Linked DNA regions of Homo sapiens: region 1 is linked to region 2. The links come from fine-mapping of genetic effects on gene expression. Tissue or cell type: whole blood. Region 2 holds a variant in brackets; the other region holds the start of a gene. All regions are shown on one strand. Distances are between the middles of the regions.

Region 1 (5,426 bases), 150 kb after region 2:
ATTTTGAATTGTTTATAGGTAGTGTTAGTTTTCTAGGGCTGCTGTAACAAAGTACTACAAATTACATGGCTTAGAACAACAGAAATGCATTGTCTTACAGTTTTGGAGGCCAGAAGTCTTAAATCAAGGTGCCAGCAGGACCATGCACCCCCTGAAACCTATAGAAGAAGAATGCTTCCTTGCCTCTTCCTAGCTTCTTGTGGTTTGCTGGCAATCATTGGCATCCACTGGCTTGTAGATGCATCACTTCAATCCATTGTCTTCACATGGATGTCTTCTCTCTATGTGTTTGTGTCTGTGTCCAAATTTTTTCTTTTGATAAGGACCCCAGTCATATTGGATTAGGGCCCAACCCAATTACCTCCTTTTAACTTGATTACCCTGTTAAAGACCCTGTTTCCAAATAAGATCACATTCTGAGGTACTGGGTGTTAGGACTCCAACATACAATTTTTGGGGGGAGGACACTAACACCTAAGTCAAAAAGGACCAAAAGACATACCATACAAAGCAAAGGCCCTCTGCCCTGCACCTTCCCTCTTCTGTTCTCATTTTAAATGTTTCTACTTTCATTTCTTCTAGTAGATTGTCCCTGTCTTTCTAAATACTATGCTATTTCTATATCAACTTTCTAATGTTTTCAACTTTAGACATTGCTGACTTCTTCCTATGATAGATGAGATCACTTATCCATTCCTCTTTTTATGTACATATTTTTAACCTTGGATTTTGGAAATTGATCAAACCTATACAAGATTACAGAAAATAGTATAATAAACCCCAGGTGTTCATCAATGAACTTCATTGGTTATCAACTCATGACAAATTTTGTTTCATCTCTCCCTGCCATTTTCCCTTCTCCTTTTACTATATAGATTTATTGCCATTTTTAAGTTTTCTATTGTTTACTTTTGTATCTTTAAGTAATATCCCTAAATCTGTATTTCTCTTTCTATGAACTGGGGACAGCGACTATTGATTTATTATTATTATTATTATTATTTTTTTGCGATAGGCTGGGGCAAAGGAGACAATCCTAAATTGCTAACCCTAAATTAATGTGCCTACATTTCCTGCCATCTCCCTTCCTCCTCCCAGCTTTTTGTCAACTGTTGCTGCAGGCCAGGTTCCCAAGGAAGCTGACTAAGATGTAGAGTAATGTGCAGGAAGTTTCTTAGGGAGTACTCTTAGGATCAACACCTGTAGAAGGGGAGGGGAGGGAAGAAATCAAAATTCAACAGACAGAGAAAGTGGGCAGTCTCAAAAAAGGCTTCAGTTAACCCCACAGGGAGCTCTGAAGCTGAAATGGCCTTTCAGAGATGTCCCAAGTTGGGGTAAGGGGCTGCACCTTTGTACCTTCAAGTTGAATCACTGATGTGGGCTTCCTGAGAACAGGGGTGACCTTGGCTGAGGTACCTATCTTTTTCTAAGACAATTTCTGATGAGGGCTAACGACAGCTAACAGCTCTCAAGCCAGCTAGGGAAATAAAATTTTTGGTGTTGAAGGGAGATCTGAGCAGTGCACCACAGCACCATCACAGCTGTATTTGTACCTTCCCATTGTCCATTGTTGTTTAGTCATAATTAAGTCATCTGGGCTTTGTTATAGATTGATTCTCAAAGTTGAAAATCAAACTGTGTTTGCAGTATTAGGACGGTATAATAGTATTCAGTACAGTACAGTGTAGGGCTAGGATTCCATCTCCCCACAATTGCTGCTCTCTCTGTTTGGCGCACCCTTCTTGCAGACCTCAATGCGGCTTGCTCCCTCACTTGCTTCAAAATTTTGTTCAAATGCCACTTCACTAGTGAGGCCCTGCCTGGCCACCCCATAGAAAATAACAAGCATGCCCCGCACCCACGCTTTATTTTTCTCCAGACCGGGTATGCCCACCGACACTCTCTATATTTTTTTATTGTTTTAAGCTCCACCAAAGCAGGGACATAGAGCCCCAGTGCCACCAACAGCGCCTGGTATACATATTTGCGATACTTAATAAGAATTAGTTGAAGAAATGAATAGGAAAGGGAGTCCCTTTAGATGGAGGAAGGGACTTTCTCAAAAGGCCTCATGGAAGGAGAATGGCATTGAGGCTGGCTTACAAGAAGTGTGTCTTTTATAAAAAGAAGGAAGGGCAGGGCTTCCAGGTGAAAGGCATAGCACAAGCAAAGGCAAAAAGACGGGTAACTGCTAGTTGTTAAGGGCAGTGGCTGAATCGCTATACCCCTAGCAGTTCTACACCTAGGGGCCTGCGGGCCGCTGGGTCTGCGAAGCTTGCAAGGCAACTGGCCCGCCCCCGCTCTGCGCCTGTCTCTCGGCCACGCCTATTGCTGCAGGATGACGCGCACCTCTAGAACCCGCCCCGGAGGGGAGGGACGCAGGGAAGAGTCGCACGGACGCACTCGCGCTGCGGCCAGCGCCCGGGCCTGCGGGCCCGGGCGGCGGCTGTGTTGCGCAGTCTTCATGGGTTCCCGACGAGGAGGTCTCTGTGGCTGCGGCGGCGGCTGCTAACTGCGCCACCTGCTGCAGCCTGTCCCCGCCGCTCTGAAGCGGCCGCGTCGAAGCCGAAATGCCGCCACCCCGGACCGGCCGAGGCCTTCTCTGGCTGGGTCTGGTTCTGAGCTCCGTCTGCGTCGCCCTCGGATCCGAAACGCAGGCCAACTCGACCACAGGTGCCGCCCACGCCCTCCCTGCCATCTCTTCTCCCTTCCTCCCTCCCTTCCTTCCTCCTTCCTTCTTTCCTTCCTTCTTTGTTTATATCCATTCTTTTTACCCTTCCTCTCTCCTACCATTCCTTCTTTCATCCATCATTCGTTCCCTCCCTCCATTTTTCACTCCTTCCTACCGTCCCTTCATCCCTCCCTTCCCTCTTTCCATCTATTCATCCATCCATCTCCTATCCCTCCGTGCTTCCCTTCCTCTTTCCCCCCATCTTTCCCATCTCTATCCATCCATCTTTCCCCCTCCTTTCCTCCCTCCATTGGTCCATCCGTCCCTTTTACCTTCTATCCATTCATATTTCTCTCTCTTCTCCCCTCCTTCTCTCCATCCTTTCTTCCCTTCAGCTATTCATCTTTTCCTCCTTATCTTCCTCCATCCAACCATCTGTCCTTTCCTGCATACATCATTCTCTTTTTTTCCTAAATTCATCTTTCCTTTCCACCATCTTTCACTCACTATCTCGCTTCCTCACCCAGGTTGGAGGCCATGACCAAAGCCTAACCCTGCCACCCAGGACTCAGGCTTCCTCCTCGAGCCCCACTCCCACCCTTGCTGAGGCACAGCGCCCTCCCTGGCTAGGCTGTTAAGGTGCAGGGTCCAGCCTTGGGCCTCTTAGTAACCTAGCACCTACCATGAGGGAGGGTTCAGTGTCAGTGCAGGTTACCTCACCAAAGCCCCTCCCTCCTGTGTAGATGCTCTGAACGTTCTTCTCATCATCGTGGATGACCTGCGCCCCTCCCTGGGCTGTTATGGGGATAAGCTGGTGAGGTCCCCAAATATTGACCAACTGGCATCCCACAGCCTCCTCTTCCAGAATGCCTTTGCGCAGGTATGTCTGGGAACCTCTAGCTGTGGGTGTGTGCTGCTTCGTGCACTGAGGGTTGGGGGCGGGGAGCTTCAGCTATTGTCAGATGGCACAGATTGTGCGGGACATCTTGTTAGAGGGAAGCATAGTCTGGAAAATGGTAGTGGAGAAAATCTGGTTTTCCACTCATGGGAAAGCTTGACCTTCAAGGGTGGCCTTCTCCTTGGGTGCAAGGTGCGCCCTGGCCCTGATGTGTTCATGGCAGCCCTGGCCAGCTTTCTCCCAGAACGGGCGCTTGCCTGGTGCTCAGAAGGAAGGGGTGCTGCAGAAGGGCACCCACAGGTCTGCAGGCTGGGCCTCAGGTGAGAGCTAGCCAGGGTGGCCCTGCTCCCTGAACCCCCTCATGGCTCTGCCCCCAGCAACACTGGCCGCTCTGTGTGCCTGGGGAGGCCATTGCGTAGGAGGAGATAAGCATCTGCTGGTTTCAGGGGCTGATTGCTTCCCTTTTCTCTCCCGGAAGCAGTCTGTTGCCTAGGTGACACCCAAATCCCAGTGTCTGGTTTGAGCTCTGCATGACTCAGCTACCAAGCTGTTTGCTAGGAGCCTCGGGAGGGCGGTTGCTTGGTTACCTAAGAGATGGCAGACATGTTTTGCTGTGGCGATGCTTACCTCTGCTTCTGCTCCCTAACAGCAAGCAGTGTGCGCCCCGAGCCGCGTTTCTTTCCTCACTGGCAGGAGACCTGACACCACCCGCCTGTACGACTTCAACTCCTACTGGAGGGTGCACGCTGGAAACTTCTCCACCATCCCCCAGTACTTCAAGGAGAATGGCTATGTGACCATGTCGGTGGGAAAAGTCTTTCACCCTGGTACTGCTCCATGTCCAGAGTCTGGGTTCTCTTGGTTTGTGGTGTCTGAATCCAGCATTCCCATCCTGGGGATGGGGCTGTCTTTGCAGAGCCCTCTTCTGGCTGGGCGAGTCCCTCGCTAGTCAGTGCTTCCTTTCTAAAAAACTGACTTGTCAACCCAGCCACGTTTTCACCCAAAGTGAAAAAGGGTAGAAAGAGCTTTGCTTCCTTTCAGAAACCACTGAGGGTGTGCTGTTGGGTCTTTCAGCTCCTCGGGTGGTAGGGAGGACACAGGCTGGGGAGGTGGCAGTGTTGGGTGGAGTCCAGCTCAGGGCCCCACCCTCTCCCCTGCAGGGTACCTGTCAGTAAACCTAGGGGTGGGGTGAGGACACCTGAGGGCCTCCCGTGTGGCCAGCATTGCTGTTGCTGACTTATTGCCCAATGAGGGGGCTGTGCTTAGGTAGGGGCTGCTATCCACTCTGGAAATTAAGTCAGAAAGATGAGTGTAATCTGGTACCCAGGATCTATAGGGTCCCAGAGACGGACATTCCTTACCTCAAATGCTGCCTGATAAACTGGCTCTCTTTAATGCCAATATGGGGATAGTGAAAAGCAAACAAACTTTAAAACTTTTTATTTATAGAAGTAATGCATGAGTATTTGAGAAAAAAAATGGAGAAAAAAGTATTGGAAGACAAGAGCACCATAGGGACAATAATGCTTATCATTTGGGAATGACGAATGTTTTCAGTCTCTTTCCCTTTGCTCAGTGGTTACACCGGCAGGCTTGGCAGCCTTCTGCAGGAGCTCAGCTGGCCAGCCCAGGTTGAGAGTGACATTCAGCTCTACTAAGTCAGGCCAGTTTCAGAGGTGAACCTGTCAGGAATCATATTGCACAGCCAAAAGTCCAGTGTCAGGAGAACTTTCTGCAGTTTGGTGTTCTCATTACCATACCCCTTGCCCAAATGCAGCTGGAGGGAAGTGATGATTTTGGAGAGAGGAGGAAACACAGCAGAGGGAGGAGATTGTGCTTTGGGAGGGGAAACCAGGC
Region 2 (5,426 bases):
CATAGGACTATGCTATAACCTCTATCTTTGGAAATTACACTGTAACATAAGGCCAGAGAGGTGGATATAAAAAAAAATCAGTATAAATATTGAACAGATTTAATATTTGGTACGACAATATGATTATCTAGAAAATTCAAAGAATTGTGCAGATGGAATAGTCAAATAACAGACTTCAGAAAAATAGTATACAGAAGATTACTACAGTAAAATCAAAATCCTTGCAACCCAAATAAATAACTATTCAGAACAAGTAATAGAAAATACCCCATTCACAATGGCAACAAAATCTAGAAATTATCCAATGGAGACAGACAAAGCATACAAGATCTTTATGGAAACAACTATGCAAGTACTGATAGAGTTAGGTCAAAAAGTTCCCAGATAAACAGAGCCGTATTCTATATCCCTTAATAGGGAACAGACTATTGAAAAGATATCAATTTTTCTTATTCAAGATTTACAGATATAATGCTTAAAATTTAGCTGCCAAGATGAATGTCAGGCTTGGACTTCTGCCCTCAACTACCAAAATCAATCCTGGAAAACTATAGAAGAAAGAATAAAATAAAATAAAAAAACAAATAGTATCAACAACAAAATCTAAACAACAAAGCAAAGCCCTGGGGGAGAATGAAGACTGTGTTTAACTGGTACCTGTAATCGAAATGGCCAGAGTGTCAAGGAAGTTAGGGAGAGTCCATAGCTGGCATAGAAGGAAGATGACAGGATGTGTAGAAGGAAATGTTTAAATTTTTGCCCCTATTCCAGTGTGAAAATGTCAGGTGGCACCTGAGACCACAGGTGCCAGTAGTCTGGTTTCATTGAAACAGTAGTAGCTCCAGTCTGTGCTAATAACCACCTAAAACCACATTAATAGGTGAATTGGCTTAACTGAACATAAAGAATGGATTACAAATAGAGTGTTGAGCATTAGAATGAAACAGGCATAATGAGGTTAAGTATGATTTCTGATGCTGAATGAAAGTTTAAAAATGAAAATCACTGCACTGAGCTATGAAATACTCGATAATTCTAATGGCAGGAATCCCCAAATTTCATGCTGCTGCTCAGCCTATTTAATGTAAAAACAAATATTTTAGGAAAACAGGTTTGCAAACTCGACCTGTGGCTGGGGAAGAGCTTCCTTGGGAAGGTGTGTGTCTTCTCCCAGAGGTCACTACAATCACAGAAGCTGCCGCTCTGCAGGGAGTACCTGGCCTGGGACCCGCAGCCATTCTCTGCAAGAGATGCAGCTGGGCAAATGCTCAGAAGTGGCAGAAACAGAGTATCTCCTGCCCATGGCTTCATCAAAGATCCAAGAGCCAGGAGGAGGATCCTCTTGAGTGAGGACTGAGAGTCCACCCTCCCCTTGTAGAGGAACCAGAGAATCCAGCTCAGCCCCTTCTAACAATCCTGGAAGATCCTGGCAATGTTGTCGCCCTGAACACACGCCTCCCACCACTGCCACCTCAGGGGACTGGGAGTCAGAGACTTGGTGTGAAGGGAGCAGACCCAATTGGCAGAGGGCAGGGTGTCCAGGCTCTGCAAGGAATCAATGTCAGGACCCTAAGGGAAGCTTGAGGGCCCCTATAACCATTCCTACCCCCATGCCTGGAAGAATCCAGTTCCGCTGCTGCTGTCGACCCAGGGAAGCCCCAGGCTTGGGGGCCGGATGTCACGCCACTGACGTGGCCTCAGGGGTCAGAGGATAGCAAGAGCGCCTCGCTCTGAGTGGCAGCTTGAGATTGGTGGAGTGAAACAGGCCCCGGCTCTGTGAGGAGGCAAGGTGAGACACTGAGGAAGACTGAGGATGCCCCTACCCCAGAGAGAGGACCCCAATTAACCCAGTGCCACCCCTGCTGCCAGCCCTGGGCCACCTGGGGGCAGACTTCTCAGGCTGGGCCGCTCCCGGCTCCACTGCCACTTAAGCCGCAGGGCATTCTGGAGACAGAGCTTGGTGTGACCAGGGAAAGGCTGATTAGGAAAGGGCAGGACCCATGCTCTGCCTGCCAGGCATCATGGTCCAGACCCTGAAGGAGGGCTGAGATCCCACAGAGCGAGGCTCCATCTCTGCTGTCAGCCCTGGGAAGTTCCGGGCATGGTGGACAGGCATGTGGATCCTGATGTTCACATCGGGGGCTGATGGAGGGAAGGGGCTTGGAATCATGAGCACGGCCTCAGGGGAGCAGAAGGTGGGTCCAGGCCAGGCTGGGAGACAAGGCAGGCCTGAGGGGACCCAGCAACCCAGAACAGGGGGCCTACTCCACTTCTTTCTGAGACTGAGGCACCTTCTCAATTGGCCTTGGGAATTTGAGGGATATAGATTCAGGTCCACAAAGGGGTGAGGCTCAGCCCTGACAGGATCAAGAGGAGGAAGAAGAGGGAGGACTCAGAGGACCTCGACCCTGGGAGGTCCTGGGAGTGCTGGCTGTGTGTGGCACATCTTTGCTGTGTCTTTGGGGTGCCAGTGACGAGAGGGGTGTAATATGAGG[A/G]GTAGGGCCTCAGGCCAGCAAAGAGAGAAGTCCCCTAGAGCCCTGAGAGAGGACTCAGCAGACCTGTTATCCTGGACCTAGGAAATCTGCCTCTGCTATCAGTCCTGGGAGGCCCAAGGCAGGCCTGTGGAGAAGGGACATGGTCCCCCACTTTCTCCTTGGGGGTCCCAGGAAGATGGTGGCCTTGGCACACAAGACTCATCCACAGTTGAGCAGGAGCGAAAGGGCTGGGCCCTGTCGGGAATAAATCTGAATACCTGGAGGAACGCAGACAGAGGAGGCACCCCTGAAACCTGCTCCTTCTGTCAGCCTTGGGAATCCCGTGCAGAATTTTCCGTGTGGTGCCCCCTCACTTCTTTCTCCCAGGTCTCAGAGAGGTTTGGGCCTTGGTCTGAGGCAGTGTCCTGAAGTCATACAGCAGAGGAGGCCCAGGTATTGCCAGCAGGCAAGGTGAGGTGTTTACTTTAAATGTATACAAAGGGCTCCACCGGCCCCAGAGCAGAGGGGACTCCAAAGTGCCAACCCACCTGTCCTACTGTTATTGCTGGAGCCGTGGCTTCTGCTGACAAGCTGCACCCTGAGGAGCCCTCTTGTTAGTGGTGGCAGGTACCCAAGTTACCCTGAGTTACTGGTGGTGTATCCATATAGGTCTGCGGCAATTTCAGTTCTTACCTCCTCAGAAGAAAGAATTCGACTGAGGGGCCAAAGGCAGAAGGAAAGACTGAGGCAAAAAACAAACAAACAAACAAACAAAACACAAAGCTTTAGAACAGTAAGGAAAGGAAGGAAAGGAAACAAGAAAAGTATAACTCGGAAGAGGGCCAAGTAGTCAACTTGAGAAACCAAAGTCACAGCTTGACCTCTTGACTTGGGGTTTTATGTTGGCATATGTATTAGTTTTCACATTGCTGATAAAGACATACCCAAGACCGGGCAATTTACAATAGAAAGACGTTTAACTGGACTTACAGTTCCGTGTGGCTGGGGAAGCCTCACAATCATGGCAGAAGGCAAGGAGGAGAAAGTCACATCTTACATGGATGGCAGCAAGCAAAAAAAAAAAAAAAAAAGCTTTTGCAGGAAAACTCCCCTTTATAATAACCATCAGATCTCATGAGACTTACTATCATGAGAACAGCATGGGAAGGACCTGCCTCTATGATTCAGTTACCTCCCACTGGGTCCCTCCCACAATGCGTGGGAATTCAAGATGAGATTTGGGTGGGGACACAGCCAAACCATATCAGCCTACTTCAGAGATCTTGTGTTACTTTCTCCCCAGTCCTGAGATCTTGTTGGGAAGCTGCTGATCCATTTCAGGTGTTTTCTATTAGGAGACTGCCTTCCCCTGGCAAGGGCTGTGAACAATTATTACTTTACAGAAATAGTTAACAACCACTTGACCATCGCCTAATGGTCACCCAACATTCCTAGTGTGTGTGTGTGCACGCACGCATGCATGTGCACATGAGTGAAGGGGCTGGGGGAACCCTCTCCTTCCCTATTCATACCTGACTAGCTACCCACTGTAACACTCTCACTTCCTCCAAGTTCTCGGTGAACAGGCCAGCTAGGAGGATAGGTGCCCCAGGAGGCCCCAGAGGAGCACCAAATGAAAAGATCCATAAGTCTGCTTTTGTTAGAGCCTCCAAGGTTCGGCTCTCAGCTGAGGTCCCTCACTGGCTCCCTCTCTCCTCAGGCCTGTGGGTCCCACTTGCCCAGCTCCTGCCCACACTCTGCCATTCTGACCAGAGTCATCATGTCTCCTGAGCAGAGGAATCAGCACTGCGAGCCTGAGGAAAGCCTTGAGGCCGAAGGAGACGAGGCTTTGGGCCTGGTGGGTGTGCAGGCTCCCTTGGCTGAGGAACAGGAGGCTGCCTCCTTCTCCTCTCCTCTGACAGTGGGCACCCTGGAGGGGCTGCCTGCTGCTGGGTCACCTGGTTCTCCCCAGAGTCCTCAGGGAACCTCTACCTCCCCCACTACCATTGACAACACTCTATGGAGCCAATCTAATGAGGGCTCCAGCAGCCAAGAGGAGGCTCCAGGCACCTCACCAGACCCAGCAGACCTGAAGACCTTGTTCCAAGAAGCACTTGATGGGAAGGTGACTGAGTTGGTTCATTTCCTGCTCTACAAGTATTGAGTCAAGGAGACAAACACAAAGGCAGAAATGCTAGAGAGTGTCATCAAAAATTATAAGGATTACTTTCCTGTGATCTTCAAGTGCATGTGGCTGGTCTTTTTTTTTTTTGACATGAAGGAAGTGGATACCACTGGCCACTCCTACATCCTTGTCACTTCCCTGGGCCTCTCCTATGACGGCCTGCTGGGTGATGATCAGAGCAAGCCCAATGCAGGCCTCCAGATAATGGTCCTGTGCACGATTATAATGGAGGGCAACTGCACCCCTGAAGAGGTCATATGGGAAACCCTGAGTGTGATGGGGCTGTATGCTGGGAAGAAGCACAGTGTCTATGGGAAGCCCAGGAAGCTGCTCACCCAAGACTGGGTGCAGGAAAACTACCTGGAGTACCACCAGGTGCCCAGCAGTGATCCTGCACACTATGAGTTCCTGTAGAGTCCAAGAGCCCACACTAAAACCAACAAGATGAAAGTCCTGGAGTATGTGGCCAAGGTCCATGGGACAGATCCCACCTCCTACCCGTCTCTGTAAGAAGAGGCTTTAAGAGAGGGGGAAGAGGGAGTATGAGTACAAGTTGCAGCCAGGGCCACCAGGTGGCAGGTTTAGGGACAGGGCCAGTGCAAGTTCCAGGGGCACAACCTACCCCATGTGAAATCAGGCCCTTTCTTCACCCTGTATTTGAACAGAGTAGTCAGAGTTCTTGGTAAGGGAGGTCAAGGTGGGTGGAAGGAAACACATTGCATACCATCTTTGGCTTCCTGTTCTATTGAGTGATTGGAGATTTATCT

Evidence for each region. PIP is the estimated chance that this variant, and not a neighbour inherited with it, causes the effect.
Region 1: it holds the start of IDS, and the variant in region 2 is fine-mapped to the expression of IDS in whole blood (TOPMed, PIP 0.97).

What each region holds. Positions count from the first base shown.
Region 1 is chrX:149,502,282-149,507,707 of GRCh38, reverse strand. IDS (iduronate 2-sulfatase) reads left to right here and starts at 2,402. Exons shown (of 9, transcript NM_000202.8): 1 at 2,402-2,673; 2 at 3,415-3,551; 3 at 4,219-4,396. The coding sequence starts at 2,571. RefSeq lists enhancers at 2,498-2,657, 2,650-3,151, 3,275-3,823 and a silencer at 3,214-3,313.
Region 2 is chrX:149,648,953-149,654,378 of GRCh38, reverse strand. It overlaps the pseudogene LOC100420321. Among named protein-coding and RNA genes, the nearest start is that of TMEM185A, 20 kb to the right of the region's middle. The variant A/G (reference allele first, on the strand shown) is at 2,496.